Linked DNA regions of Homo sapiens. The protein of the gene in region 7 purifies or fractionates together with the protein of the main gene of each other region. This does not show direct contact. Each region holds a gene or a part of one and is shown on either strand. Other genes may lie near its edges.

Region 1 (4,322 bases), on a different chromosome or scaffold from region 7:
CATTAAGAAACAGGGAAACTTTAAAGGCCTATAGGCTGGTCTTGGAGATGACAGAGACCTGACCTGCTTTTCCTCCAATTGGAAGGCCAAGGGGGAAGAGAACTGAGGGAAGCTAGGGAAGTAGCAGCAGCTTGAAAGAAGAGACTCTGAAAACACACTAAAACTGGAGAGGCTGGGTGTGGTGGCCCATGCCTGTAATCCTCTCACTTTGGGAGGCCGAGGCAGGAGGATTGCTTGAGGCTGGAGTTCGAGACCAGCCTGGGCAACATAGTGAGATCCTGTCTCTAGAGAGAGAGAGAGAAAAAAAAAAAAAGCTGGGTTCCTGCTTGAGCCCAGTTGTTGAGACTGCAGTGAGCCATGATCATGCCACTCCCCTCTAACCTAGGCAACAGAGTGAGACTCTGTCTCTGAAAGTAAAAAAAATGAAAAGTGGGGAGTGCTAGTGGGAGCCAACTCAACCCAAGTAAAGGCCTAATAGCTCCTCTATGGGTGTTTGCACTGTCTAACAAAGAACTGGACCCTGACAGTCAGAGGACCCATGGTAGGATCATCTAGTGTAGCCCCTTCTTTTACAGAGGGAACCTAGGACTTGGGTTTGGTTCAGTGGTAAGACCTCAAAACCACAAAAGAGCTGGGTCACTCTAGAGAAGCTTTTCTACTTGGCCAATGCCTCTTGGCCCAATTCCCTCTAGGTCTCTGATTTATAAAAGTTTTTGTATGTGTGTCTGTCTGTCCCAAGAGACAGGAAGCATTCCTTTCAGGGAAGGAACCAAATTTCCCTAGGGCTATGATGCTAAATAGTCCATTCTCCCAAGAACAAGTCCTACTCTGTCATTTACCTGCATACTGTCACATGAAGACTGATAAGGGTGGGCCTCCGAGGCTGAGGATGCTGGGGCACCCTTCGTCTCAGGAGTCCCATCCTAGCCAATGAGGATGGGCAAGATGAAGGGAGCAATGGGAAAAAGGACACAGGGATTATCTCATGTTTGAAAAATTATATAGCATGGGAATGTTAGAGAAAGGTGAAACAAACAGCCATCAAATCAGAAGCAGAAGCCTGCTTTAGCTCAGTGTTTTCTTCTTTCCTGAACACTGTCTTTCTTTTTTATTTATTTATTTTTTTTGAGATGGAGTTTTACTCTTGTTGCCCAGGCTAGAGTGCAATGGCGCGATCTCGGCTCATTGCAACCTCTGCCTCCCAGATTCAAGTGATTCTCCCATTTCAGCCTCCCGAGTAGCTGGGATTACAAGCACATACCACCACACCCGGGTAATTTTTATATTTTTAGTAGAGATGGGGTTTCATCATATTGGTCAGGCTGGTCTCAAACTCCTGACCTCAGGTGATCTGCCCACCTCGGCCTTCCAAAGTACTGGGATTACAGGCATAAAGCCACTGCACTTGGACCCTGAGCATTTTCTCTTGCTTTGTTCACTAAGTCTCCTGTATGAGAACCCTGACTTGCCAAACAGATTCTGGGTTGCGTCTCTGCCTTCCCTTTCCTTTACCTCCTCCTTTAACACCTAACACAGGTAGGTTCACGCTGGTAAAAGCTACAAACAATGGCAGTGGGAGGAGTTCCTCTGAGTTTTACTGAAAATTTAGGAGACATCAATTTGTTAACTCTCTATAGGGTCAGAAACATGAACTAAATCTATGGTTCCCAAACCTGGATAATCCTGTCACTCACTAACAACCTACTGGATGGGCCCAGAAATCAGCATTTTATGGAGCTGAAGTGATAGATAACCTCACCAGTCTTCAGATATGCAATGAGGAACTCATGCATAACCTTAAATTCACAGGGCAGTCGGGTTACAGCCTCTTCAAATAAATGACAATTTAAAGTTACCTCCTCCAGGCCGTTTATCATTAATCCCATTTCTTACATGTTCCACCAAACCCCTGACCTCTCTGGTTTCTCAGATTTCCAAGAATCTCTGTTCACTTCTTATGTTTGTGCACTCCCAAGAGAATGGAGGCTCATCTGGAGAAGGAACTAGATTAATCTTCTGCTCTACACTTGAGCTCCTGATTATGGTAAGAAACTCGATAAAAATTTATTGGCAGATCAGAAGATGGATCCTTAGAGGAAGTCTAGTGTAAGAGGTGAAAGAAGATACTTTGGAGTCAGATGGTCTGGGATCCTGGCTGTAGCAAATTAACATTCCTGTCTCTCAATTTTTTTCTTCTGTCAATACCTACCTCAAAAGGTTGTTGAGGGTGAATGAGATGATACCTAGAAATTACTCTGAACAGTGCCTGGAATAGAGTGAGCATCCAGTAAATTGGCTGCTATGACTATTATTAAGAACACCCCAATATTTCCCAGCCACAACTGCCCCAACTGGGCAGGCCATCAACAGCCAACAGGTATGATATGGGGAGTGGTCTTCCATGTACAAAGCTTCTGGTTCCTTTCTTTCTAAGAGATAAATGCAAATGACTCAAGATCTTCTCACAAAGACCATGTACCCATAGATATGGAGTCTCCTGGGGAGAATGATAACCCCTTTGGTACGCTGCAGACATGAGGACCCTACATCAGGAGGTCCTAGCTAGGACAGTCAGTCACCAACCCTGTCACCCTTCGCGTCTACTACATGAAGCATGGGCACAAGAACAACAACCTGGAATTTAAGAACTTTTTTTACTCTGAAAGGAGAGCTAAACAAACCTCTGTTCTCCAAACACAAGATCTCCATCTTCCATGCAGTGAAGAGACCACAGGCTTTGTAAGCAGACCAACTTGAGCTCGTTTTAGAGCAAATCACTGTAACCCTCTGGACCTCACCTTCCTCATCTATATAGAAATGAGAAAGGGGTGCACAGGAGAAGGGAGAGAAGATAATATCTCACTGAATTGTTGTGAGGTTTGAATGAGGCAGGGTGGGGGAAAAGCACCTAGCATAGTGCTTAGCACATCTCAAGCACTGAACTGGTGCTGGTCCCTCTGTCCAGAGATAGGGCCATGGCCTACAGACAAGGTGAACTCATAGTGTCAGAACTCAAAGTCTCAGATACTGAAGGCTTGGGTCCCTCCCTGCCTCCCTCATCCCTCCCAGACCAGCTCCTGGACCCCCTCCCTCATGTCCCAGGCTGCTAAATTGATGAAGCTAAAAGGGTTTTGATCATGTCGGTATATTTATATGTAAATACAAAACTGTATCACTGTAAGATATTGAATATGAACATTACAATTATTTTCTGAATCAGACTCAGTCCATTGATATTAAATACAAAATGAAATGATTGTAAAAAATAATAATATACACATTCAAAGAGCTTATTACAGTATAAAATTATTGAGGTCTGATCAGCTGCCAACCTCATCTTCTGTCACAGGGGAAGGTTTAGGAGTTCCTGGGATTTTTTGGGAATGTGGAGTGCTGAGGACTCTTGATTTATCCCTAGCACATAAGGATGAGTGGGCTGGGAGCAGGCAGGGACAGGTTGGGTGGGTAGGGGACAAACAGTGATTGCAGGGGACCACCTCACTCAGCCAGGGGGTGAAGCTTTTTATTGACACAGAACCCACCCAGTTTGAGGGTCTAGCAGGCTAGCAGGCAGGAAGAGATGGGCATCTCGGTAGACAGGGCCAAGCTGCATAAAGGAACCATCCAGCAAAAGAAAAAGGGCCCCAGCTCATCCTCCCAGGGAGGTATTTTCTTAGTGGTTTTTTCTTTCTCATACCTGGGCTCCCCCTCCTTCCTTCTAAGATTCGTACCGATTGCATTTGGCTCTGGCTGCTCAGTGAGTTCATCTCTACCCTCCGCCTCCCATCCCTGGGATAGTGAAAGCAAAGAGAGAGTATGGAATCACAGTGGAGGTCTGTTCCCCAAATTGGCCAAGTAAATGTAGAAAAATCATCGGATAAGGGAAATCCATGCTGAGCTAACCCAGTGTCACCACAAACTAATACATTCTTGGCTCCAACAGGTGGCAACTGGAAGGAGATAAGTCATTACTTAAGGAAGGGGCCCTGTGGCAGGAACATGGAGGAGATGTGTGTGTGTCCTCTTCCACCACTCTGTAGCCTGACAAGAGGAGACATGATCACCAACCCAAGCTAGTCCAGGATAAATAGTAGGGTCCAAGAAGCAAGGAGTCCTGAACTGCAACACGGAGCCCCAGGAACTTCTGGAAAGGAGTATCGTGTGTATATGTATTTATAGAATACGATCATATTATCACATACAATATATATTATATACACACGTACATATGGACCCATACACATAAGTGCACACACACACACACACAGAATGACAGAAAGGACTGGAATACACGCCCTACTTATAAACGTGCTTGGCACTCA
Region 2 (4,322 bases), on a different chromosome or scaffold from region 7:
GCCAATATTTAGAGCTAGCGAAGAGGATACAGATTAAGAGCTGGCACCTTTGGGCCCATAAGCCGTAGGTAGGCAGAGGGCCAGGTTAAAAAAAAAACAAAACACCACCGTTCAGTCACTGTCCAACGCTTCCACCAGTTGATAGAGTTCACTTAGTTGGACAGGGAAAGGGAAACCAGAGATAGCATTTTAAAAAGAATTTCCACTGCTTTTATAGACCATAGCCATATTCTTCTCTTGACCCTTCATATCAGAACAATATGATGTTCACAGGACGTGCATTTTCTCTAATTTATGTACTTTAGAAAGCTAATGATAAACCCTGAAGCAAATTATCAATTCTGGCAGGTCACATAATTGCCTATCATTTAACCAATTTAACAGTTGGATATGGTTGTTCTGAGAGGCAGAAATTGTTGGAAACGTTGATTCCTTCTGCTGACAAACTCCATAGATTTGACCTTCTAACCCAACTAAATCTAGTGTTTAAGTTACACAGCATGCCTTTCTGCAGTCTAATTTGATGTAGTTATAATAATATCACTTGGTGTAAAATTTTTATACTCTACAAATATCCGACGGGAGGGTTAGTATTATCTGGATAGCTGGAAAATAAAGTAACATTAGTGGAAAGAATATAATCAAGATTTATTAAAAGCCTATGTTGTCCTCAAAAGCCTAGTGGCTGGCAGCTTTTTTCTGTTTCTTGCTTGTAGCTGCACTTGTATAACTCTTAGTAGTATGCCAGGGATCCTTTTCATTAAAGGTCTTTGGTACAGGTAATGTTGCTAATGTTAAGTTAGTACGTTTTATTTGTCGAAAACAGCTTCTGATATGCTGTTAATAAACCCCAGCCTTCAATATGAATATGAACTGAAGGACTTGAGACTCGTAGGTTGATTCATGGATTTTTCTAACTTGATAATAGTGCCTTATTGAGCTGGTGGTCAGTGGAAAAGAGTGGTTGTGACAAAGTGTATGTTTCAATGCTGGTCTCTAACATACGTGCCTGTTTGTACCATGTGATTTGTAACATTACCACAGTGGCAGCTGCAGGGGCATTGGGAGTGCTGACCCCATCCTGCCTGTCTGGGTTGTGTTGAATTATCTACATATAGTCTTGTGACATCAATGGTATATATTTATAGGATAAAGCAAAGTTAACTTGTGACAAAAGCAAATACGCCACATGGCGCGATAGTGAGTTTGAATCTGGCAGACCTGGGTTTGTACCCTGTCCTTTTACCAGCTCTGTGACCTTGGGGCTTGAGTTTTCTCATCTGTAAATTGGGGTAATGTTGTGAGGATTACCTTTATATAAAGTATTCAGTAAATCTTATTTTTCCCCTTCTTTCCTCAGTTGCATTATTGTGCTGAAATTTACTAAACAGGTCAGCCAAAAGCATCAAATTATTATTAATGATTTCAAAAGAGACCCTCTTTTTTCCCCCTCACTCTCCAATCTTTTATGTTCAGCTAGTATGTTTGGAGTATCTATTGTTTTCGTGGCTCTTATATTCAGTTATTAGGAGGTGTATAATACAAGTTAATAATAAAAAGATAGAAGCCCTCAAACCTTTTTTCCTGAGATGGGCAACATTGAAATGGACGAGAACCAAGAACCTGCACCACCTTACATTTCGGCAGTAGTTAGGATTGCAAGGTCATTTCACATCCATTCTTTTACTTGTTTTTTTATGACAACCTGAGATGTAAATAGAGATGGTTTTATTTTCACCATTTTCCAGTTGAGAGCATTGAAACTCAGGGAAGTCACAATAGTGAATTTAACAGCTAGACCAAGATGTACCTTGCCATAAAAACAAAAAATTTCAAAATACATAAGTGGCATTTGGTTTTTGAGTGGGTAAGTTTGTGAAGGGGCATCCATCCATCATCCACTAATGCAGAAATAAGGCAGTAAGGGAAAGTGAGAGCGAAAGCGATAAAGGGAGGACACAGAATGTGGAAGATCTAATGAGCGGGGGACAGAGTCTGAAGGTCACACATGGGGAGTGGGTTGATGAAGCCCGTGATGAAAGGGGCAACTTGGCACTGGCCCATTTTAAGATCACGCCACAGTGGCCAGAAGGAGCTTCTATCAGTGTTTCATGAGCAGTTACTTTCCTTCCAATACCAGGTTGTCCTTTTGCTCCTTGTGAATTTAGGCTAACCTCATGACCCCAGCTGTGCCCCTGTTAAGAGACTCCGGCAAGATACGTAGTCCCGACTGCCTATTTTAGCAGTTCCTCATGGGCCAACTTCTTACATTTTCTTCTTATGTTTCCTGTTAAATCCAGAGAACAAGCTGGACATGCTAAACATGGAAAATACTATACATGACAACAAGCCATTAGGCAGTGTTGTCCATATCCGACACAGTGCAAGGGTTTCCCCCATGGAATAATTCCAATGGCTAAGTCCACTCCACTTTTAAATAACTCATAAGATTGGCCTTTCACGGGTTCCCTGGGGCATTGTTCTAGAGACTAATAGGTTTTACTGTTAGGAAAATTTCCGGATATTCCTTAGCCTTACTCTTCCTCTCTGCTTATTTATCCACTTATTCATATCAGTGTTTCTTCAGCTGTTCTTCAACAATTTCTCATGGGTTGACATGAGACATTTAGGCTATTATTTCTTGTGTATTAACTTATGTGCTCTTCATGAGGGTAAAGAGATATTAAATAGCTCTAATTATTATTTCTAAGACTTAAAAGCTACCAGCTGGCTGGCTGTATGAGATACAGCATTTACAAAGGAAGGAGCACATCGATTGATACATAGTCCTGTGTCTTTTGTTTCTCATATCTGCTTAGCCTCATAACTTTCTCAAGCTCAGCAAGATTGGATTACCTCTTCTTACCTTTGATACCTGGTTCCCATTCTATCTTGCTACACCTACCTAAGGTAGGAGAGGTGCTGCTTGTACCAAATAGGTCATGTCTCTTCCTCTGAGCGTGCCTATGAACAGGCATGCTTATGCACACCACCTACCTTACAGGAGAAATGGAAAGGAGCGGGAATGAGAAGCCAATAGTATTTGCTCATGGGTAGACCAAAATGTGCCCAAGTTCTGTTTTTTAAAAAAGGGGAAGGGTGTCGAAAGGGTTTGCTGTCAGATCTGCATTACGTCTGGGACCATTCCCTGGGACATACCACCTCTCTACTATTTACTTGTAGAATTGGGCTGCATTGGGAGTTGCTAGTCTAAGCATTTCAGCTTTTTCCCAGCCCTGCTGCTATTGACAGAAAAATGCAGAAGCTGGCTGGACCCTTCTGGCACATTTTGTGTTCACTGGGAGGGTGGGGTTTATAGGAAATACTGCTGCTGCAATCCTAATCTAATTATAGTGACTTGAGCTTCAGTTGCTTTGATAAACTGAAGGTTTGAACCAGGTGATCCATGAGGGCCATCTAGCTCTGTTATTCTAGGACTGATTCTGCTTTGAAGTATATAGAGCAAAAGATGGTGTGCATAAGCATGCCTGTTCATAGGCGCACTCAGATGAAGAGACATGGCCTATTTGGTACAAGCAGCACCTCTCCTTTTGAGACCTCCAGTATTTGTGCCTTCGCCTCTTAAATTTTGCTGTCCACCTTAAACGTTCACTCAAGAAGAACACTTGCATTTCTGATTGGTCTGCTGCTGCCTGGCCTCCCACTGCTACGTACCCTTTCTTTGAGGTTCACACTCCTGACAGCCCTGGGGAAGCCAAGGTGGCAGAAAGAACTGGGAGGGAATAGAAACAGTTTCACAGTTTCTCCAAAGTCAGTGAAGTGAAAAACAGCTGTCTCTGCACTGGCTGGCAGAATGTACCCTGCCGGCTAATAAAGGCCATTAGAAAATGCAGGCTCCCTCCAGCCAGCCGTAAGCCTCCCCTGGATCGTGATGCCTTTCATCCTGTGAAGTACCATGGGAAGTGTGACTCTGAAAACAGAGCAGGAAGCCAGGAACCTGGAGCCTGACAACCAAGGGCAAACTGGGACCAGAGGCAAGGACCAACCCCAGGAGATGCCCAAGGGACAGAGGTCAGTGTGGGACCTGCAGTTAGATGATGAGTCTGTCAGGGGTCCCCCAAACCATAGCAGAAGTTTCAGTCAGTAAGCAGGCAGTGGGACAGTAGCCACGCAAACAGTTAGTTCAGCTCACAATAAGGACGTCTTGTAAATGAGACAGCCCCACCTCAGACCTACATGCTTCCTGCTGATCTCTTTGGAGAGATCAGAAAGGAACCTGGCCACAGTGAGGAACTTGGGGTCAGGACCCAGTAAATGAGGCTAGATCCTAATGTGACAGCTCTCCAACTTAAGGCTAGTGC
Region 3 (4,322 bases), on a different chromosome or scaffold from region 7:
AGATAGAAGTATGTTCATATCCACATAGACTCAGAACTGCCTGACGTCAGAGAGACCTGACTTAATGGACTCTTGAATTCCTTTCTAGCTCTAAGAATACACGATTGATTTTTGTTAACCATATTACTAAAAGAGAGAAAGGGAATCATTTATTCGAGACTACCAAAAACAATGCTATTTAAAATAGTAACAATTTTGGTAATCTAAATCTTAGGGCATTAAGAAAAGGGAGTTGGCTGGGTGCGGTGGCTCACGCCTGTAGTCCCAGCACTTTGCCAAGAGAGATGCATCTCTTGAGGCCAGGAGTTCAAGACTAGCCTGGGCAACAAGGCAAGACCCTGTCTCTATTAAAAATAAAAAAAATTAGCCGCATGTAGTGGCACACACCAGTAGTCCTAGTAGCTACTTGGGAGGCTGAGGCAGGACGATCTCTTGAACCTAGAAATTGAAGACTGCTACAATCATGCCACTACACTTTAGCCTGTGTAACAGAGCAGGACCCTGTCTCTTAAAAAAAAAAATAAGAGTGTACTAACTGTTCTCAGAATAAATATTACCTATTAGTATTATTAAATTACTCCTGATTTATTTCACTTGGGGAAAACACTCATAAAAAAACAGAAGCTGGGCATGGTGACATTTGCCTGTAGTCCCAGCTATTTGGGAGGCTGAGGTGGGAGGATCGCTTGAGCCCAGGAGTTCAAGGCTGCAGTGAGCCGTGATAGCACCACTGCACTTCAGCCTGGGCAACAGAGCAAGACCCTGCTCTAAAATGAAAAAAAAAATTTAATTTAATTCAAATTAAAAAAAAAAAAACAGAGAAAGGTAAGACAACAAATACTAAGTAATTTTTGTTGTTTTGGCTGCCAAGCAACTTCCCTAACACCGTAACATCTGGTAAAGAGGCAAGGTGAAGAGGAGGAGGAAAAAATGACCTACTAAGAGGCAGCAGGCTACCAGCTTATACCTAAGTCCTTGTAGACCCATAAAGTCCCATTCTAAAGATCTGAAGTAGGCTGTGATATATGTCAGAACAAAGGTTTTCACCAATTTAATTTTAAATAAGTATTACATCTGTGAACTGGAATGTTATGCAGTTGATACAATTTTCAAAAGATGTAAACAGGAAAATAACCACAATGTATCAAAAAAAGCAATATACAATATACTAGGTATACAGCATGATCCCAATCCACTAAACAAATAGAGAAAAAGAGAGAGACAGAGAGAGAAATAGAAGTGAGAGATATACCTAACAAAGAAATATACTAAAATGGTAAGCAGTGATTTTCTGTGGGTGGTAAGATGGGAAACTCTCATTTCCTTCAGAAATATGTAGGGGTTGTCCTAGGACACGGTGAAAGAAGAAAATGAAATCAGACTATAAAGGGAAACCATGAAATTCTGTACTAGACAGACACCTATTTTACACCCCCGTTAAAACATAAATGTACCCAGGCATGGTGGCTCATGCCTGTTATCCCAGCACTTTGGGAGGCCAAGGCAGGCGGATCACTTGAGGTCAGGAGTTCGAGACCAGCCTGGCCAACATGGTGAAATCTCATCTCTACTGAAAATACAAAACTTAGGTGTGGTGGTGAGTGCCTGTAATCCCAGCTACTCTGGAGGCTGAGATATGAGAATGCCTTGAACCTGGGAGGTGGAGATTGCAGTGAGCCAAGATTGCACCACTGCCCTCCAGCCTAGGTGGCAGAGACTCCATTTCAAAAAAAAAAAAAAAAAGAGTTTAATCTATAAAAACAAAACAAAATACAAACGTGTCTTTCCCTTCAGTCCGGAATGTGATTACTTTGAAATAATTGTTCCAGTTTTGACAGATATGAACATGAAAAATGCACACTGCACCCATAAAGCCCATATGGACTCCCTGCCTGGATCATGTGGCAAAAAGACCCTCAAAGGTATTTTTTTCTTTAAACACATAAAAAGAAGTCTCCAATTCATTTTATGAATATTCATTATTTTACCTTATCGTGGCCTCAAAGACTTGGACGGTGGAATCTTTGTCAAATGAAACTGTGTTGATCACTAACTTGACGGCTTTCTGGAACTCGGATGAATTTCCCATTATCTTTAAAAAGAGGAACACAGGTCATTACAGCAACTTGAAATGAAACTGAGGCTGTATCATCACAGCAGCCCAGTCACGTCACCTAAATGTCTGTATGTGGTTTTGCTACCATAGGAGTAGAAACACAAGAGACAGAAAAGCAGTTATTTCTTAGCATATATTCCCAGCACATGGCTGGCCCATTTCCTCCAACTCAAGAGTCCTGTCTCCAAAGGACAAAACTGTGAAAATAATTCCTTGTAAAATCATTGGCACTCCTCATCTTCCCAACTCCACTCTCCAGCAAACTTCACTATGATCTTATTTAACATGCCAGGCATTGTGGTTTCTAAAACTTCTGGCAGGTATACAAATAAATCAGAAAACTGAAGAAACAAAAATATGTCTTTCTCTCTGCTCCTCAAATAAATCAGCAGCTTGGGTGCTTGGCTCCCAGGAGACCAAAACATGTGGAAAACTGAATGAACTTGTTGATTGTTATCCAGATGCCTAAACACTTTGAGAAATAGTGGTAATATCTTTTGGAGCACAGGATAAAACCAGTGACTGATTTAAAAGAAACAAAACATATGAATAATCAGCTCTATGTCCTTTTTAAAAAGTGATCTAGAATTATGATTCCTATTTTGGGTATGTAGATACGACGTCACACTAAGCCACTCTCTCCTATGTGAAGCACAGTTGGGCATCAAACTTTATAGATTAACCTGAATCAAAATTATTTCATTCCACTCTAAATTTTATGACAACCCTGAGACTATAATGACATCATAAGGACATACTGTGATAGAAAAATAAATTTCTGGGACCCCAAAATCACTAAGCCAAAGGGAAAAGTCAAGCTAGGAACTGCATCAGGCAAACCTGCCTCCCATTTTATTCCTAAATAAGATAGCTACAAAGATTCAAAAAAAAAAAAAAAAAAAAAAGCTATATACGTCCCTTACAATTTACCTACAAGGAAATTCCTTGTGGGCCTCAAGATCTTCCCCTCAAAACAATTCTGCTGAATTTCACCCAGGCAATGTAAATTGACAGTTTATCTTCACAGGTACAAACAAAGGACAGAACTCAGTCATCCCTCTGCTCACCTAAGAAAAATGCATATCTGATTGCTTCCTCTGCCCTACTGTTTATGTAAAACTGCAGATTCACTAAGCCAGACAAAGGCATAAGTGACTATTCCTCTACCTTTGTCACAGGTAAACTGTATATTCCGTGAAAGGCTAATCAGAGAGTCAACCGGCTGGACACGGTGGCTCAGGTCTGTAAGCCCATACTTAGGGAGGCCAAAGCGAGCGGATCACTTCAGGCCAAGAGTTCAAAACCAGCCTGGCCAACATGGCAAAACCTTGTCTCTACTAAAAATACAAAAAATTAGCCAGGCGTGGTGGCGCATGCCTGTAATCCCAGCTACTCGGGAGGCTGAGGCACAAGAACTGCTTGAACCCCTGGGAAGGTGGAGGGTGCAGTGAGCCGAGATCTCACCACTGCACTCCAGCCTGGGCAACACAGCAAGACTCTGTCTCAAAAAAAAAAGACAAAAAAAATGTAACCATTTGTCTTTTATCTGCCTGTGACTTGGAAGTGCCCCCTCACCCCACCCCCAGCACTTCAAGTTGTCTCACTTTTCTGGACTGAACCAATGTACATCTTACACATACTGATTGATGTCTCATGTCTCCCTACAATGTATAAAACCAAGCTGTGCCTAACTACATTTTTTCCACCTCATCGTTATTTTGCTGTAACCTACAGAGTAAGTACAGACATTTCTAGCTTTCAGTTCTTTCTTTTTAGAAGATGATGCAATAATGCTGCAAGTTGCATCCAATGGTCAGGGGACTGCTATCTTCACAGTGTTTCCCTAGCACATCTGTTAAAGCCTGTTTAAATGTTAGCAAAAGAAAAGGAAAACTTCAACAGAAGTAACACCTGAAAAATAAGCCTGAAGCACTAAAGGCCGGATATTCTACAATGAAAACCACAGAGATGAGTCTGTTTCCTTACAGATGTTTACCAGCAACAATATCTGGTGAAGCTGCAGGTGCTGACAGGAGCTCAAATCAAGTGAGGAAGGTGAAGGAAGTCAACAGCTCTTACTTATTGTAGTTTATCATTATGGTCAGATAGCTATAGAATCCTGAGTGACTATGTTCTGAAATCACACTAATGTTTGAAAATGGCTGAATGGGACAGAGGAGCTAAATGGGTTTGTTTGTTTGACTGT
Region 4 (4,322 bases), 4.6 Mb from region 7:
CATGCAAAACACATGCATCTAATTACCATAAAGAGCTAAACCCCAGTGACAAAAACGGTATCATTGTTTTCTCTCTTTAATTGACTGAATGTTTTTAGCATACTGTTTTTCTCTTATGTTCTTGTCAGTGAGGTTGATTGCATTTGGGAGTCACTTACTAGCATTTTGCTAGTAGCTATCATATAACTTATCCATTAAGTCGGATCAGTTGTATCATGTCCATCATTGTTTTTTTAAATTTCTTGTGTTTAAATCAGTGATCCATTTATAATTTTAAGAACGATCGTTACCTCATTTGAAAAGAAGAGCATTTATCAACATAAAAGTTAAGGAAGAAATACCCAAAGCTTAAAAGAATCACTAAATTATACTGTATCATAATGTGGTGTGTTTGGCATTCAGATGATTCTGTACATTTTTCACAGTGTGACAAGTGCACATACTGAGAAGGTGTCACTGTGCTTTGCCTGGCATTTAGCTGACTGTGATGTACATGTGTGTATACCCAATGCACACACCAGGAGTAGCTATGTGCATCACTGGATAGGGGATTGGTGTCTTCTATTTTAGAATGTAACTTTTGAATCCATGTTATTTTTAAAATTAGTTTTAAAATTAATCTATTTAAAATTTCATTCTAATCAAATGCAGAACCTATGAATCACCTCTGTGGAATATAGTCTGCTCTAGAAATGTTAAATAGCCATGGGGTATTTGACATAATAGAACAGAGCTTTGTCTTCATGGAATGGGCATTCCATAAACATTCACTAGTATATCTTAAATATTTTTATTAAGTATTTATACTTTAAATATTTTATGAATATTTTACTAAATATATTTTCTTTTGGTGAATATTTCTTTAAATATTTTATTTTTATAAATATTTATATCTTATTTTATCTCATATCTAAAAATATCTTAAGTATTTTATATCTATAAATAGTCCTCAAGAACACATTAGTAGAAAATGCAAAGTTAGTAAGACCGTGTCCTGTTGTTTATTTTTGCCTGCAAAATACTAAGTTACTCTTTTTCTTGTTCACAGGCTAAAAGGTCAGATTCCTGAAATTAAACAGACTTTGGAAATTCTAAAATACATGCAGAAGAAAAAAGTAAGTGCATTTTTGTTTGTAAATATGAGCAAGCTAGGATATGTCAGCAGAAACTCGTCTTCTTTGACTCTTTGGTCACTGATATTTGATCTGTGCTGTGGAATCCAGTCTGCCTTCTTAAGCACATACACTAATGTTATGATGTGCTTCTGTAGCAAATGTGGCTTTGTGGCCTTCCCCCAAAAGTCAAGTTTAATTCTAGGGCCCACACTTGGATTACTTTGCTTATCTTTAGTGCTTGTGAAACTTAAATGCAATTTGAAATTGTTTTAGGTGTACAAAGAAAATGTCTTATTCTGTGCTAGCAGCATCTAGGGTTTTTTCTTTGTTGTTGTCTTTCTCCCTAAGAATAAGGAGTTAGTCCAAGATTTATAGAGCTGGAACGAATCTTAGAGATCATCTGTTACAGGTTCTCATTTCATAGTTGAGGAAATGGTTATGGAGAGGTTATACTCGACCATTGTCTATGTAGTTAGTTACTGGCAGAACTAAATTTGAGAGTCTTCTAAGTCTTAATCCAGTATTCATTAAATAAAAGCAGGTTGTAAAGATTAAATCTCATAAGCATATTGTATTTAAAAGATTGTGTGTATGCTTATGATTTTGCTTGACTGGTAGAATAACTATTTCTAGTACATTTTAATATGTGGTGAACTTTGTAAGACTTCAGCAACTGATTGATTGGGCATGAAGCACCAATGAAATAATAGAAGAATGGCTAATTCTTACAATAATGCCTTCTCTGTATGTCAGGCACTCGGGGGTGTGTGTGTGTCTGTGTATACTCAGTGCTTACCACTGACTTCATAGGTGTAGGGACTGTTGTAATCCTCATTTTACAGATGAAGAACCTGAGATATAGAAGTTAAGTGAGATGCCAGATTTGTACAGCTAGTGAGTAGCTGAGCCAGAGTCCATACCCAGCCACCTGGGTCTAGCATTCATTTCTTTTACCACTACACTTAGCCTGCATGATGGTACTGTTTTAAATGTCCTAGGTTCAACTGTGCAATCTCTCCTTTATAACCTTGGTATCAAACTGGCCTGTTTATGGTACTGTCATTTTTTTTTTTGTTTTGAAGGAGTCCACCAACTCAATGGAGACCAGATTCTTGCTGGCAGATAACCTGTATTGCAAAGCTTCAGTTCCTCCTACCGATAAAGTGTGTCTGTGGTTGGGGGTAAGTAAATGTTATAGCCACAGCTGATATATTTGTAAACCAGTGTGTTTTCTGTAGCAAACACACTGGTTTTGCTAGTATTTGCTAGTATTTTAGTAGTATTGCTCGAGATATGTAAAGTGTTCATCTCCTTTTGATTGTGGAAGGGACAAAGGGACAGAGTCCAAGTGGTTCATATTAGAAATTGACTAGAATCAGAAGTGCGATGAAGATCGCAGTAAAAACATACTGAAGTCTCTCCCAATCAAGATAAAACTGATCAAACAAACCCTGCTTCTCTTCCAGTTAGTGCTTTATCTCTCTTAAATATAATGGAGGAAGAGCAATAGAAGTAAAATAGAAGGTACTGCTGAACTTTAGATAAACGCTTCTTCCCATAAGAGTTTAATAATTCTAGAAAGATCCCTCTCAATTTAAGGGGAAAAAGAGTATTGCAAAAAGTTTGAGGTTAGAGTTTATTTTTTAAAACCATGTATTTCAGTTTTAGATGATTTCATTGAGCTTATCTGTGATTTACCTATTTTGCTCTTCTCAGTCCTCTGACTATCCAGCTACCTGTCTGTGGATCTTGTTACCTCAGGCAAGTTCTCATACAAAGTAGCAAGCCAAGTGTACTTCTACCAGCTGTCCTACGGGGAGGATTTCCCCTAGCTGCTGTCCTGTAGGATCACTCTGGAGAGGCACTCTAGATTAGCCCAAGGAGGTTTGCTCAAAGTTTGTACAACATTTATATTTCACTCTACAATCTGCATTTCAGTATTTATCTTTTATAATTTATCACTAAGGCTTTTTAAAAAATAACTTTGAAGCATAGCAACTACACCTGAGTGTCCAAGGATTCAATGATTTTCTGTATTCAGTTTTTTTGTAGAAATTGCATGACCTTTTGATTCACAAATTCAAGTGTTACTTTATTTCAGGAAAGATAATTTCTGTTGTGTACTTGAATGTGACTTTTGCCCCATTTCTTTTATTATCTTTTGGGAATAATAAATATGCATATGTTCGATCTCCTTTATCTGTTTTCAGTACCTATCATGTTCTCTGTTTTCAGTTATTCGATGTGTTTCATTCTGTGTGATTTCCTCTGGCTGCTTCCCCATGACTTTGTGTTTTCCCTGGTAGTTATTCTGTTTTGTTGCTTTTACTCTGTCTTTTGTAACTGTTCTTCTGTTTCTCTTTCTCTTCATTTTCTTTGCTGAGCTCTTCTTGCTCTTTTCATGTTTTTCTTCTTTCATTCCTCTTGAATGTTTAAATCCTCATTTCACCACTCATAGACTGGCACTTCCCACAATCTTCTCCATCTCAGTAAATGGCAGAATCTTTTGCCTGGTTGCTCAGAACAAAAATCTTTGAGTCTTCTTTGACTCTTCTTTATTTTATATCTCTCAACCAGTCCTTCAGCAAACCCCACTGGTTCCTTCTTCTGAATAGATTGAGAAGCCAACTATCTCTCACTTCCTTACTGCTGTTACCATGGTCCAGGCCACCTTTGTCTCTTGCCAGGACTGTGGGAATACTGTCTATTAGTTTTTAGGGATGCCATAATAAAATTACCACAAACTGGGTGGCTTTAACAACTGAAATGGACTGTCTCATGGTTCTGGAGGCCAGAAGTCCGTGATGAGCCCCAGAATCAGGGTCGATTCCTTCTGAGAGCTGTGAGGGAAAATCTGTTCTAGCCTCCTCTCTTAGCTTTGGTGTTCGCGGACAGTCTTTGGCATGTTGATGTGTAGAAGCATCACTGTGATCTCCGCCTTCATCTTCACATGTGTGCATGCATGTGTCCAAATTTCTCCTTTTGAAAGACCTTATCTCCAAATAAAGTCACATTCTGAGCTACTGGGGGTTAGTAGTCCAACTTATTTTTTGTTGGGGAGACAGAATTCAATCCATAATACCTTACTTCCACGTAAGGTCACATTCGCTAGTATAAGGGGTTAAAACTTAAATGTATCTTTTTTGGGGACACTGTTTAACCCATAATAATACCCTAATTCACTGTCTTGCTTCTGCCCTTGCTGGA
Region 5 (3,171 bases), on a different chromosome or scaffold from region 7:
ACCCATTGGGATTCAGAGGGTACTGCTCTGTGGGGTTCCCGTCATCATCAGCCCAGTGCAGTGGAGCCAAGCCCCTGGCCTCAATCTGAGCTTGGAGTTCCGGAGAAGAAAATGCTACGTAACCTGGGATGGAAGGAGGAGGGAAGTGAGAGCCAAGGTCCTTCATGCCCACCCTTGCCCCCAACCCTCGGGCCCTCCCCCAGCCTTCCTTGGGCCTGACCTTCCCCGTGCGCACTCCACACGGGCAGCACGGCGCCCTCCATCCCTCGCAGCATCAGGGCTGGCCCAGGCCCCACACGCACGCTGGCCCAGCGAGACTCGTAGCGCCCAGACAGGTTGTGGCGTAGCAGAAGGCCTGGCCGGGCTGGCTGGGAGTCAGGGCCCATCTCTGCAGCATCCTCATTGGGGTCGCCTCCCACCCAGCCGAGCAGAGCCAGCAGTTGACAGCCATTACACACGCCCAGGCTGAAGGTGTCTGGCCGCTTCCGGAAGCGCCTCAGCTCAGCCCCAGCCCTGGGATGAAAGGTCACAGCAGCTGCCCACCCTAGCAGGGAATAGGGAAGTCAGGGTGAGACATGGAGGACCTCAAAAAAGGGAATTGGGAATGAAGGGGCATAACTGCTCTGTTTCTTTTCTTTTTTCTTTCTTCCTTTTCCCTCCCTCCCTCCTTCCTTCCTTTCCTTCTTTCTTTTTTTTTTTTTTTTGAGATGGAATCTCATTCTGTCACCCAGGCTGGAGTACAGTGGCATGATCTCGGCTCACTACAACCTCTGCCTCCTGGGTTCAAGCGATTCTCCTGCCTCAGCCTCCCAAGTAGCTGGGATTACAGGCGCCCGCCAGCACGCCTGGCTAATTTTTGTATTTTTGCATGCCTGTAATCCCAGCTACTTGGGAGGATGAGGCAGGAAAATCGCTTGAACCCAGGAGGTGGAGGTTGCGGTGAGCCAAGATTGCGCCATTGCACTCCAGCCTGGGCAACAAGGGTGAAACTCCGTCTCAAAAAATACATATATATATATATATATATTTAAAAATATACATATTTTAATAATATATAAATAATATATATAAATAATATATTTTAATAATATATAAATAATATATATAAATAATATATATTTTAATAATATATAAATAATATACATTTTAATAATATATAAATAATATATATAAATAATATATATTTAATAATATATATTTTAATTACATATGTGTATATATATACTTTTTTTCAATGAAAAAATTAAAAATTTACTACCAGCCTTCTGTTGGCATGTGGCCCAGAACGAATGGGCCCACTCTCTCGTAGCTCGGTGGAGTGAGAGGCCAATCCCCAGCCCAGGAAGATGGGGCTAAAGGCACCTCTTCAGGAATGTGGGGGAAGGGAGTGGGCAGAAGCCTGCACACTGACCTTTGGCAGAGCCCAGGACATCTGCATAGCTGAAGCCGCCCACGAAGGCCACGCCACGGAAAGTGTCCAGCCCAATTGCCCCAGAGCAGAGGTCCTGCATGGTCACGTCCCATACCTGCGAAGGTGGGGAGGGGGAGTGTGGGTGGGAGGACACGCAGCTGAGGCTGGACAATCACCCCCAGCTGCCCCCTACCCTGCTCACCTCAAACCCAGCTAAGTGGAAGGCATCGGCCATCTCCCGGTCTCCATTACTGCCCTCCTCTCGCAAGATGGCGACTCGGGGGCTGGGACCACCTTGGGGGAGAATAAGTGTCTTTGGGCCAGAAAGTCACTTCCCCACCCCAACTCCCCAGACACCTTTCTGAGGGCAGGCCCAGGCATCCAGGCTCAGTGCCCCCAGGACGCGGAGCCTCTGCACACACTCCCTCACCAGGCTCACGGGGCACGGAGGCTTTGGGAAAGGTGGGGGGCAGGCAATAGCTGGGCCCCATCCGCTCCCTCAGGCCCCGTTCCTCCTCTGCCACACAGCGAGGCTCTGCCTGTAGCCGGTCCAGCTGGAAACTCGTCTCCTCCCAGAGGGCTCGCAGCTCCCCAACAGGCTCCTCCAGAACCACAGCCCCGTTCACTGACACCCGGACCTAGGAAGAGGAACAAATCTCCCACGGGCTAGGAGAAAGGATGGCCCCCTCCACAGTGGGAGAGGGATGGACCGCGGCCACCCCACTCTGACTGCCCACTGCACACCGCTCTCTCCCTCACTTCCTCACCATGGCGTGGGGCCCGGCCTCGCCTGTGTGGCCCAGCTCCAGGCAATGGAGGCCAGCATCCCGGTAACGCTTCAGCACCTGGGCCAGGTCTGGCTCCTGCACCTCCAGCACGAGGCCTGGCTCCTCAGCGAACAGCACAGACAGGACTGGGAGAGCAATGTGGGGAGTCAGGGGGATGCAAGAAGGGCCAAGGGAGTTGGGGCGGGATCAGGGAAATGCAGGAAGGGCCAGGGTGAGGGTCAGAGGGATGCAGCCAGAGAGTAGGGTAGGGATCAGGGAGGATGAGGGCTAGGACGGCAGGACTGAGGATGTTTCATCATGGACATCTCAGGGATGGGAAGTCTCAGAGGGGTGCAGTCAGGAACATGGTGGGTGTCAGCCAGTTCCATCCAGTTCAGCTGTCAGAGAGACAGCACAGAAAAGCTAGTCAGGGAAGACTCAGGGAAAGGGGACTGGAGGGCACTCCACTCTTTAATATATTGGAAATGGGGTCTGCAGGGTAGAGAAGGCAGCCCGGGCCTGAGACTAGACCCCAGGTTCCTTACCATCAACCCTGGGGACAGGCACATCCACCTGTAGCCCGCAATTTCCAGCAAAGGCCATCTCCAGCAGGCATGTGACGAGGCCTCCGTCACTGACATCGTGGCCTGAGCAGAGGAGGCGGTCTGGAGGAAGGAGAAGAAAGCTCAGCAACCTCGGGACCCAAACCTGACAGCCCCACCCCACCTTCCGGAGTCAGTCCATCAAGAGTGTGTGTCAGAATGTCAGGGGATCTGGGGTACATCGTCCATTGGAGTCCCTTTTGCCCCACTGCTCAGATGGTGAACGCCTGCTGCACGCCTGGCACCCTGTGCGCTATCTCCCCAGGGGTCTTCACTCACCTTTCAGCAGCCCCTGAGTGATGCTGAAGGCCCGCACCAAGTTCTCAGGAAGGTCCAGGTCTGGAGGGTGTTCCCCAAGCTGGGAGAAGCACTGGGCCAGAGCTGTGCCCCC
Region 6 (3,500 bases), on a different chromosome or scaffold from region 7:
GTCTTCTATTTAGTCACAAGTCAAAATTCTCCTATGATGTAGTACAAGTGGAATGCTATTTGTGCATTACAACGTGACAATTAGACAGTCTAAAGTGAATCTTTCTCCCCTCCAGCAAGCAAAGGTCTTGTCTGGAGATGAAGAGGACAAAAAGCTCACAAAGAAAAATTTAGAAAGGATTTGCCAAGGTCAGGAACTATGTTTCTGCCTGCTTTTAGCATTCTTCACTACGCATGTTGCAGGGTGAAATGTCAACTATTATGTTTCCATCTGTTTAATATCAGAAAAATACTAGGTGCCTTCAACAAGAGAAGTGGCCAATGATTCAGCTTTTTTTTTTAAATTTTTTTAGATGGAGTCTCGCTCTGTCACCCAGGCTGGAGTGCAGTGGTGCGATCTCGGCTCACTGAAACTTCCATCTCCTGGGTTACAGCAATTCTATCTAGCTAGAATTATAGGCAGGTGCCACCATGCCCAGCTAATTTTTGTATTTTTAGTAGAGACGGGGTTTCACGATGTTGGCCAGGCTGGTTTCGAACTCCTGACCTCAGGTGATCTAATCGTCTCGGCCTCCCAAAGTGCTGGGATTACAGGCATGAGCCACAACGCCCAGCCGATTCAGCTTTTAATTATAAGGAATAAGTAGATTATTTAGGTATCTTCTACAAAGTTAAAGGAAGGAAAAGAACAGATTGCTTTATGTGATTATTTTTTCAAGCATACACAGTAGACTAACATAATGTGTTCTTCTGTTACTTGTGAATTACATAGTACTTAGCACCAATAAATATCAAATAAGGGTCTGTGTAAACTAATGACTGAAATATTTAGAATGAAGAGCCATAACCTTTATTGGATGGTAGGAAAAAGTGAGGGGAAAGAATAGCTAATTTCCAGGAACTCTAAAACTAGGTCTGACTACTTTTCTATTTTTTTCTATTCAGCCCTCATAGAGGGGGAGAAATTGTAAATGGCTGTACAGAAACAGTGAACAGATGGTACTGAAAAGTCACCATCTGTGCATTGGGAGGCTGTATGACCCAAGTGCATCTCCTACCGTAACTTGTGGCTGAACTATGTCTTGTCAGTATGCTAGTTTAGAGAAGGAAAGACTTCCTCTAAAGACAAACTGTCATTAATATTTCTTTAGATGAAAGAGAGAAGGCAGGGAGAAGAAAATGGTCATAAAATAATCCAATTTCTTTTTTTTTTTTTTTTTGAGACAGAGTCTCCCTCTGTTGCCAGGCTGGAGTGCAGTGGCATGATCTCAGCTCACTGCAACCTCTGCCTCCCAGGTTCAAGCAATTCTCCTGCCTCAGCCTCTCCAGTAGTTGGGACTACAGGCACGTGCCACCACACCTGGCTTATTTTTGTATTTTTAGTAGAGACGGGGTTTCACCATGTTGGCCAGGATGGTCTCGATCTCTTGACCTCATGATCCACCCACCTCAGCCTCCCAAAGTGCTGGGATTACAGGCGTGAGCCACCAAGCCTGGCAAGATAATCCAATTTCATTTAGAAAATAAGACAATCCAATGCCATTAAGAAATAGCTGGCTGGGCGTGGTGGCTCACGCCTGTAATCCCAGCATTTTGGGAGACCGAGGTGGGCGGGTCACGAGCTCAGGAGTTCAAGACCAGCCTGGGTAACACGGTGAAACCCTGTCTCTACTAAAAATACAAAATTAGCCAGGTGTGGTGGTGCACGCCTGTAATCCCAGCTACTCAGGAGGCTAAGGCAGGAGAATAGCTTAAACCTGGGAGGCAGAGGTTGCCGTGAGCTGACATCGTGCCACTGCACTCCTGCCTGGGACAGAGCAAGACTCCGTCTCAAAAAAAAAAAAAAAAAAGAAACAGCTAAACAGGGCCAGGCGCAGTGGTTCATGCCTGTAATCCCAGCACTTTGGAAGGCCGAGGCGGGTGGATCATCTGAGGTCAGGAGTTCGAGACCAGCCTGGCCAATGTGGCGAAACCCCGTCTCTACTAAAATATAAAAACTTAGCCAGGCGTGGTGGCACACGCCTGTAGTCCCAGCTACTCAGGAGGCTTGAGGCAGAATTGCTTGAACCGGGAGGTGGAGGTTGCAGTGAGCAAGATCGCGCCACTGCACTCCATCCTGGGTGACAGAGCGAGACTCTGTCTCAAAAAAAAAAAAAAAAAAAAAAAGAGAGAAATAGCTAAACAGAAAAACCATGCTTTATCTATGAAAACTGCTTTTTTAAATAATCTAACAGTGAATCTGTGTGTGTGTGTGCGCGCACATGCATGTCTGTGTCTAGTAATGACAGTCCATAACATTTAGCAACAGTGTTTGAAAGTGATGACAGCAAGGAGGAGGATGACAACAGGAAAGTAGTTTGTTCTTTTTTAACATTGTGAAATGCTATTGTAGAAAGTGTTGACGTGTGAGGCTGGAATCTGAAGCTGTCATCTGTCTCATCCATGATGACTGCACTCAAGCTGTATGTGGTAATTCATTTATTATAGACTAGTTTTACATACATTATTATTTGAGGGCAACTTTTAGCAGGAAAAACTATAAATTTAACTCTAAGAAAAATATGTTTTTCTGGCTGGGTGTGGTGGCTCACGCCTGTAATCCCAGCACTTTGGGAGGCTGAAGAGGGTGGATCACTTGAGGTCAGGAGTTCGAGACCAGCCTGGCCAACATGGTGAAACCCTGTCTTTACTAAAAATACAAAAATTAGCCAGGGGTGATGGCGGGCACCTGTAATCCCAGCTACTCAGGAGGCTGAGGCAGGAGAATCACTTGAATCCGGGAGGCAGAGGCTACAGTGAGCCAAGAATGCGCCACTGCACTCCAGCCTGGGACACAACAAGATTTCGTCTCAAAGAACAAACAAAAATAAATAAAATATATTTTTCAAGACAAGCTATGTGATATTAATGCATTAATGCAGAGGTTCATGTATCCCTAAAATTACACACAAAATTGTGTATGTGTTACTTTTCTGGGAAGAGCATCCATACTGTTAATCAGATCTTTAAAAAGTTAGGACCCAACAAAATGTAAATTCTTAATTCTCAGGGAGCTAAGGGAAAATTAAAAGTGTGTGTTGGGAAGGGGGAAGGAGTGAAAATGGGAAGATGAAATTCTGTAACAATTTTTAAATCCTTAACCAAAGATTAACACTTCCCTCAGTTCTCTTCTTCCTTACTCACATTCCTCCTCCAAAGCACCAAAAGAAAACCAGAGTACAATAATACAAATTATTATAGATACTTGCTATAGTAACTTTTCTTCCAATATAAAATACTGAAATTAATCAGAATCACATTAGCTTCACACTATTCTCACTTCCTGCAATTTAAAAAACATTTTTGCTTAGGGACATAAAAAGTTTGGAGATATGTGAGCATGTAGTTTTAAATTCAAACAAATGTTGAGGGAAAATAAAAGACAGTAAAGAGAAAACAGGCCATTATAGCATATAGGCCTGGCTTTAAAATTAGCCTCTACGAATTTACTGCCTGTATAAA
Region 7 (4,845 bases):
CAGAGCTCAGGCCATTCAGTGGGAACTCAAATGTAGACTTCAGGCTAACACCAGTATGAAACTTGTGGTGGTGCTGTAGGACGTGGGGCATGTCAGTGAACGCCTGCAACAACAGCATTCTCCTCAGTCGAAAAATAGGGGTAACAGAATGCCCCCTAGCTCATAAGGTCCTAGTGAGGGTTCAATGAGGCAATGTCTGAGGAAGGACTTCACAAAGCACTTCAAATACTCATCGTTATGAAAGATACACTTAGTCATTTAAGAGTCCTATTCTGATTTTTTTTCTTTAAGCTCTGTTCCACGTGATCTATTCTGATTGCCAAAAAATGGTCAATTTTAGTTTACTGCTACAACTATTCAGCATTCTTAGAACGTACATATGTAAACGACATAATCTCCAACTGGCAATATTGTTTGAAGAATTTTAAAAATTCTTACCTAATGAGACGTCAACTATGGCTTATTTAACCAGTATCTTCGCATCCCTTACTATCAACTGCTGTGTTCCCTATTCAGAGCCTGGAGTTTTGCGCGTTCACTTTTGCAAAAGCCATCCTCATAGACAGTCGTGACTCTTAAAATCTGCACTGTTTAATACACTTAAATGCCCAATCTTGCTGAAATTTTGGGAGAGCCCTGCAAGGTTGCCGGTGAGATAAAAAGTACATGAAGCAGACCCGGGCAAAGAAATCAGATGGCCACCATGCACATTTCCAACACATGCACACTCACAGCCCTGAAAACAGTGTTAGGTTTCAGTTAATACATTTATTACAGCAGGTCTTTAGTCATTATTGCCATTAAAAAGTTTTCATGAAATTTCACAAAATCTTTTAGGCTATTAGTATTAGCTTTCTTTTTATGGAGTGACACTTTGTTAATTTATGAAATATTTACAGCATTTACAAAAAGTAAGAGAATGTCTAATAAAATTTCTTATACTTACAAAATTCATACATTATACTACTGTATTTGAGATGTCTTACTTGGTAGACCAATTAAACTATGACATAAAATAATTTACAAAGATATATTTAATCTTTCTTAATTCATTGAAAACAAAACCATATTAGTTATAAATAGTCCTTTACAAATCATTGTAAAACACTTCATTGTTTTAACTCGAGCCTTAGCTTTTACAAATATACTTAATAAATGAATTAGTTCAGATAGCAAATAGAACTGTGCATTTAAAATTTCACTTAATACTATAAAACAAAACAACCTGAAAAAGCAAACGGCCTGGTACTTCAAGTAAAAATTTGTAGAACCAGTTTTTATGCACGCGTGGGGTGGGGAGGGGAAGCCAACACCATTGAAATTGAAATGCATAAACACAATACTTTCAAGAATACGCTCAACACATGTACATCTGGGGCACTGATTTCTAAGGATGATGCTCTAGCAATAGCTCATGCATCCAAGACGGTAGCCCTACATTTTGGCAGATGAGCTGGACTGACTAGAGCAACATTTGCGAAAACATTCCCCTAAGCAGCAGGATGCTCCCGACATCCTTGGACAGTGCTCTCTTTGGGGTTTGCCACAACCCGAAAACCATTCCGAATTTTAGGCAAGCTCATGAAAGAATTTAGAAAATAAAACTGGCAAATTTAAAAAATGCAAATCATATTTAACTGGGCCCTGTCAGTTTTTTAAAAATATAAAAATAGGCTTCTCTGGAAAATTAGGGGAAAACATTTTCTACCCCTAAATTTCCAAATAATGAAAAACTCATCTATACAGCTATTTCTCCTTAAGTCACCACTCATGATGGTATAAAAGCTGGCAATTACTTAAACACCTTGCTTTTGGGTAATGCCTAGGAAGCTGAGCTCAATTTGGTTTTGGCAGTAACATGCATCTTTCACATTTGGATTCATCTTAGAGAATCCAAAGCAACTGTTAAGCAGCTTCAGGAAAATCCATTCCACAAACATATATCCCCTTTGATTTTAAAATAATGTTGTTTCAATTAAGCCCACAAAATATATATTGTATATATAGTATTTCTCAAGACGTAAATTAAATCTAAATTTTGTCTTTCAAAAACTGCTTTTTAAAGGTGTCAGGGTTTTCCAAAACCTCATCTCAGCTCCTTTCTTCTGATTGCCGTGTGGACCCTGTAGTTTTCTTGTAATATGTATTCTAGAAGGCACATATTCAAGAGTTTAAGATTATGTTAGTTCAAGTTCTACATGGAGGCAAATATTTTAATCTACTTTTTACAAATGCCCCAAATGAAAGTCAGCTATCGCCTTTATTTCGAGCTCTAATGCGGTGCCAGGGTCCCCCCTCAGAAGTGAGTTTGCACATGGGGCATCATTTGCGAAGGACTGGAAGGTGAAGTTGGGGGATCAGAAAGCTTGGCAGAGTTGGCGAGCTGCAGTTCCTCAAGCCGCTTTATGTATTCGTCGCGTAAGGCTAAGAGCTCCATGTAACGCTGCTCCACTGGATTCGGCTGCTGGAGAGAACCAGAGACTTGAGTTACACTTTATGCCACGCACGTCATGAGAACTCACGTGTTCCACCCATCTGCTGTGACTGCTGATTTGTAAATAAGCCCTTTACTCAAAGTTTACCATAATACATACTTTCCTTAACTACTGCCTCATTGACACATACAGGAAAGTACAACACAGAGTACTAAACACCCAAGTACTAAGTATTTGTTCACCAAGAAATACCTAATGTACACATTTCCTCACACGTGTCACTATCTTTGAAAATGTGTCAGCCGAGACACAGCTCCAGTCTCCCGTGTTGCCCGTCCCAGACCCACTGTCCTCTTTCACTCTGAGGGACAACTCTTCTCAAGTTGCCATGTGACCTTCCTTTTTGTGCAGATTTGTGACACTTTTCCTGTGAGTATCCAGCAACAAAATACAGTATTACTTTGTGTTTTATCAAAGTTTACATCACTGGTACCATCTGGTATTTATCAATTGACATTTTGACCCAACATGTTTTCTGAATTTCATCCTTGTTAAGTTGCATTGAAGGAATAAACCAGTTTCTCCACCCCTTCCCAGGCTGATGGGTAATCAGTGATTTCCAGGGCTCCTCGGTAGTGTGTTCAATGCTGTACTGAGTATCCTTGTACACATCTCCTCAAGCACATATGCGAGTGTTTCTCTAAGGAATTTTCCTAGGGGTGGAACTGCTGAGAAGTAGAATATGGTCTTTTCAACCTCACCAGATGCTGCCAAATTGCCTGCAGAGAGGCTCCTGCTGGTGATACCTGGCAGTTCCCATTGTTCTGCATTCTCACTAGAACTTGGGAGCATACGATTATTATTCTTTTTTCCAATTTGAGGGCTGTGACATGGTATGTCACGGTAGTTTTCGTTTGTATTGCTCTGCTAGAACATCTTTTCATGTGCTTATTGCCCATCTGAATACATGGCTGACAGCCATAGCGGCTCTGCAATGCTCCGCCTTGGGTATGAATGCTGGGTTTGCCCCCTCACCTTCTGTGTGCCTCCATTTCCCTATCTGTAAAATGGGAATCAAAACAGCATAGCCCTCACATGGCATTGTGTGAGTGAAGTGAGTTAATAGCATCTGTTTTGCTACAATGGTGACTACTTTGATGAGTAAACAAGGGATTGATGTTGATACAAAGGCAGAAGTCAGGCTGGAGCATAACGTGACTCTCCCAGCATGTTAAGTTTTAAAAGTTTTGTACTGAGATATAAACCACACACAGTGCAAAATCTTCAGATGTTCAGCTCAGTGAATCTTGACATACGTATACATTTAGGTAATCACACCCAGGTCAAGATATACAACAGAACAGTACTCCAGAAAGTTAATGTTTTGAAGGGATCAGGGGCAAGCACTTTCTAGAAAGCTTAAGCAATATATGAAGACCTTAATGTAAAACCCAAAACCATGAAAACCCTAGAAGAAAACCTAGGCAATACCATTCAGGACATAGGCATGGGGAAAGACTTCATGACAAAAACACCAAAAACAATTGCAACAAAAGCCAAAATTGACAAATGGGATCTAATTAAACTAAAGAGCTTCTGCACAGCAAAAGAAACTAGCATCAGAGTGAACAGGCAATCTATAGAATAAGAGAAAATTTTTGCAATCTACTCATCTGACAAAGGTCTAATATTCAGAATTTACAAGGAACTTAAACATATTTATAAAAATAAAAGATAAACAACCCCATCAGAAAGTAGGCAAAGGATATGAACAGACACTTCTCAAAAGAAGACACACAATGCGGCCAACAAAGATATGAAAAAAAGCTCATCATCACTGATCATCAGAGAAATGCAAATCAAAACCGCAGTGAGATACCATCTCATGCCAGTCAGAATGGCGATTATTAAAAAGTCAGGAAATGATAGATGCTGGCGAGGCTGTGGAGAAACAGGAACACTTTTACACTGTTGGTGGGAGTGTAAATTAGTTCAACCATTGTGGAAGACAGTGTGGCGATTCCTCAAGGATCTAGAACCAGACATACCGTTAGACCCAGCAATCCCATTATACTCAAAGGAATATAAATCATTCTACTATAAAGACACATGCACACATGTTTACTGCAGCACTATTTACAATAGCAAAGACATAGAACCAACCCAAATGCCCATCAGTGATAGACTGGATAAAGAAAATGCAGTACATATACACCATGGAATACTATGCAGCCATAAAAAGGAATGAGATCATGTCCTTTGCAGGGACATGGATGCAGCTGGAAGCCATCATCCTCATCAAACTAACACAGCAACAGAAAACCAAACACTGCATGTTCTCACTCATAAGTGGGAGGTGAACATTGAGAACACATGGACACAGAGAGGGGAACACACACACCAGGGCCTG

What was found.
Region 1: the proteins of MTM1 (region 7) and PTPN9 purify together in Homo sapiens (affinity purification with mass spectrometry; one large-scale study listed by BioGRID and IntAct). This does not show direct contact.
Region 2: the proteins of MTM1 (region 7) and CHCHD3 purify together in Homo sapiens (affinity purification with mass spectrometry, with the first as the bait; one large-scale study listed by BioGRID). This does not show direct contact.
Region 3: the proteins of MTM1 (region 7) and EDEM1 purify together in Homo sapiens (affinity purification with mass spectrometry, with the first as the bait; one large-scale study listed by BioGRID). This does not show direct contact.
Region 4: the proteins of MTM1 (region 7) and VBP1 purify together in Homo sapiens (affinity purification with mass spectrometry, with the first as the bait; one large-scale study listed by BioGRID). This does not show direct contact.
Region 5: the proteins of MTM1 (region 7) and PFAS purify together in Homo sapiens (affinity purification with mass spectrometry, with the first as the bait; one large-scale study listed by BioGRID). This does not show direct contact.
Region 6: the proteins of MTM1 (region 7) and MTFR1 purify together in Homo sapiens (affinity purification with mass spectrometry, with the first as the bait; one large-scale study listed by BioGRID). This does not show direct contact.

Annotation. Positions count from the first base shown.
Region 1 is NC_000015.10:75,463,994-75,468,315, forward strand, and holds part of PTPN9 (tyrosine-protein phosphatase non-receptor type 9), read right to left. Parts: 3' UTR 1-4,322. UniProt on the Homo sapiens protein: Protein-tyrosine phosphatase that could participate in the transfer of hydrophobic ligands or in functions of the Golgi apparatus.
Region 2 is NC_000007.14:132,791,803-132,796,124, reverse strand, and holds part of CHCHD3 (MICOS complex subunit MIC19), read left to right. Parts: intron 1-4,322. UniProt on the Homo sapiens protein: Component of the MICOS complex, a large protein complex of the mitochondrial inner membrane that plays crucial roles in the maintenance of crista junctions, inner membrane architecture, and formation of contact sites to the outer membrane.
Region 3 is NC_000003.12:5,197,362-5,201,683, reverse strand, and holds part of EDEM1 (ER degradation-enhancing alpha-mannosidase-like protein 1), read right to left. Parts: intron 2,093-4,322; coding exon 1,989-2,092; intron 1-1,988. UniProt on the Homo sapiens protein: Extracts misfolded glycoproteins, but not glycoproteins undergoing productive folding, from the calnexin cycle.
Region 4 is NC_000023.11:155,226,187-155,230,508, forward strand, and holds part of VBP1 (prefoldin subunit 3), read left to right. Parts: intron 1-1,048; coding exon 1,049-1,115; intron 1,116-2,197; coding exon 2,198-2,296; intron 2,297-4,322. UniProt on the Homo sapiens protein: Binds specifically to cytosolic chaperonin (c-CPN) and transfers target proteins to it. Binds to nascent polypeptide chain and promotes folding in an environment in which there are many competing pathways for nonnative proteins.
Region 5 is NC_000017.11:8,265,906-8,269,076, reverse strand, and holds part of PFAS (phosphoribosylformylglycinamidine synthase), read right to left. Parts: coding exon 3,060-3,171; intron 2,844-3,059; coding exon 2,724-2,843; intron 2,577-2,723; coding exon of another isoform or gene 2,554-2,576; exon of another isoform or gene 2,325-2,553; coding exon 2,179-2,324; coding exon of another isoform or gene 2,167-2,178; exon of another isoform or gene 2,050-2,166; coding exon 1,842-2,049; intron 1,706-1,841; coding exon 1,614-1,705; intron 1,527-1,613; coding exon 1,412-1,526; intron 545-1,411; coding exon 221-544; intron 124-220; coding exon 1-123. UniProt on the Homo sapiens protein: Phosphoribosylformylglycinamidine synthase involved in the purines biosynthetic pathway. Catalyzes the ATP-dependent conversion of formylglycinamide ribonucleotide (FGAR) and glutamine to yield formylglycinamidine ribonucleotide (FGAM) and glutamate.
Region 6 is NC_000008.11:65,675,734-65,679,233, reverse strand, and holds part of MTFR1 (mitochondrial fission regulator 1 isoform 1 precursor), read right to left. Parts: intron 1-3,500. UniProt on the Homo sapiens protein: May play a role in mitochondrial aerobic respiration. May also regulate mitochondrial organization and fission.
Region 7 is NC_000023.11:150,669,047-150,673,891, reverse strand, and holds the end of MTM1 (myotubularin), read right to left. Parts: intron 2,465-4,845; coding exon 2,297-2,464; 3' UTR 749-2,296; downstream 1-748. UniProt on the Homo sapiens protein: Lipid phosphatase which dephosphorylates phosphatidylinositol 3-monophosphate (PI3P) and phosphatidylinositol 3,5-bisphosphate (PI(3,5)P2). Has also been shown to dephosphorylate phosphotyrosine- and phosphoserine-containing peptides.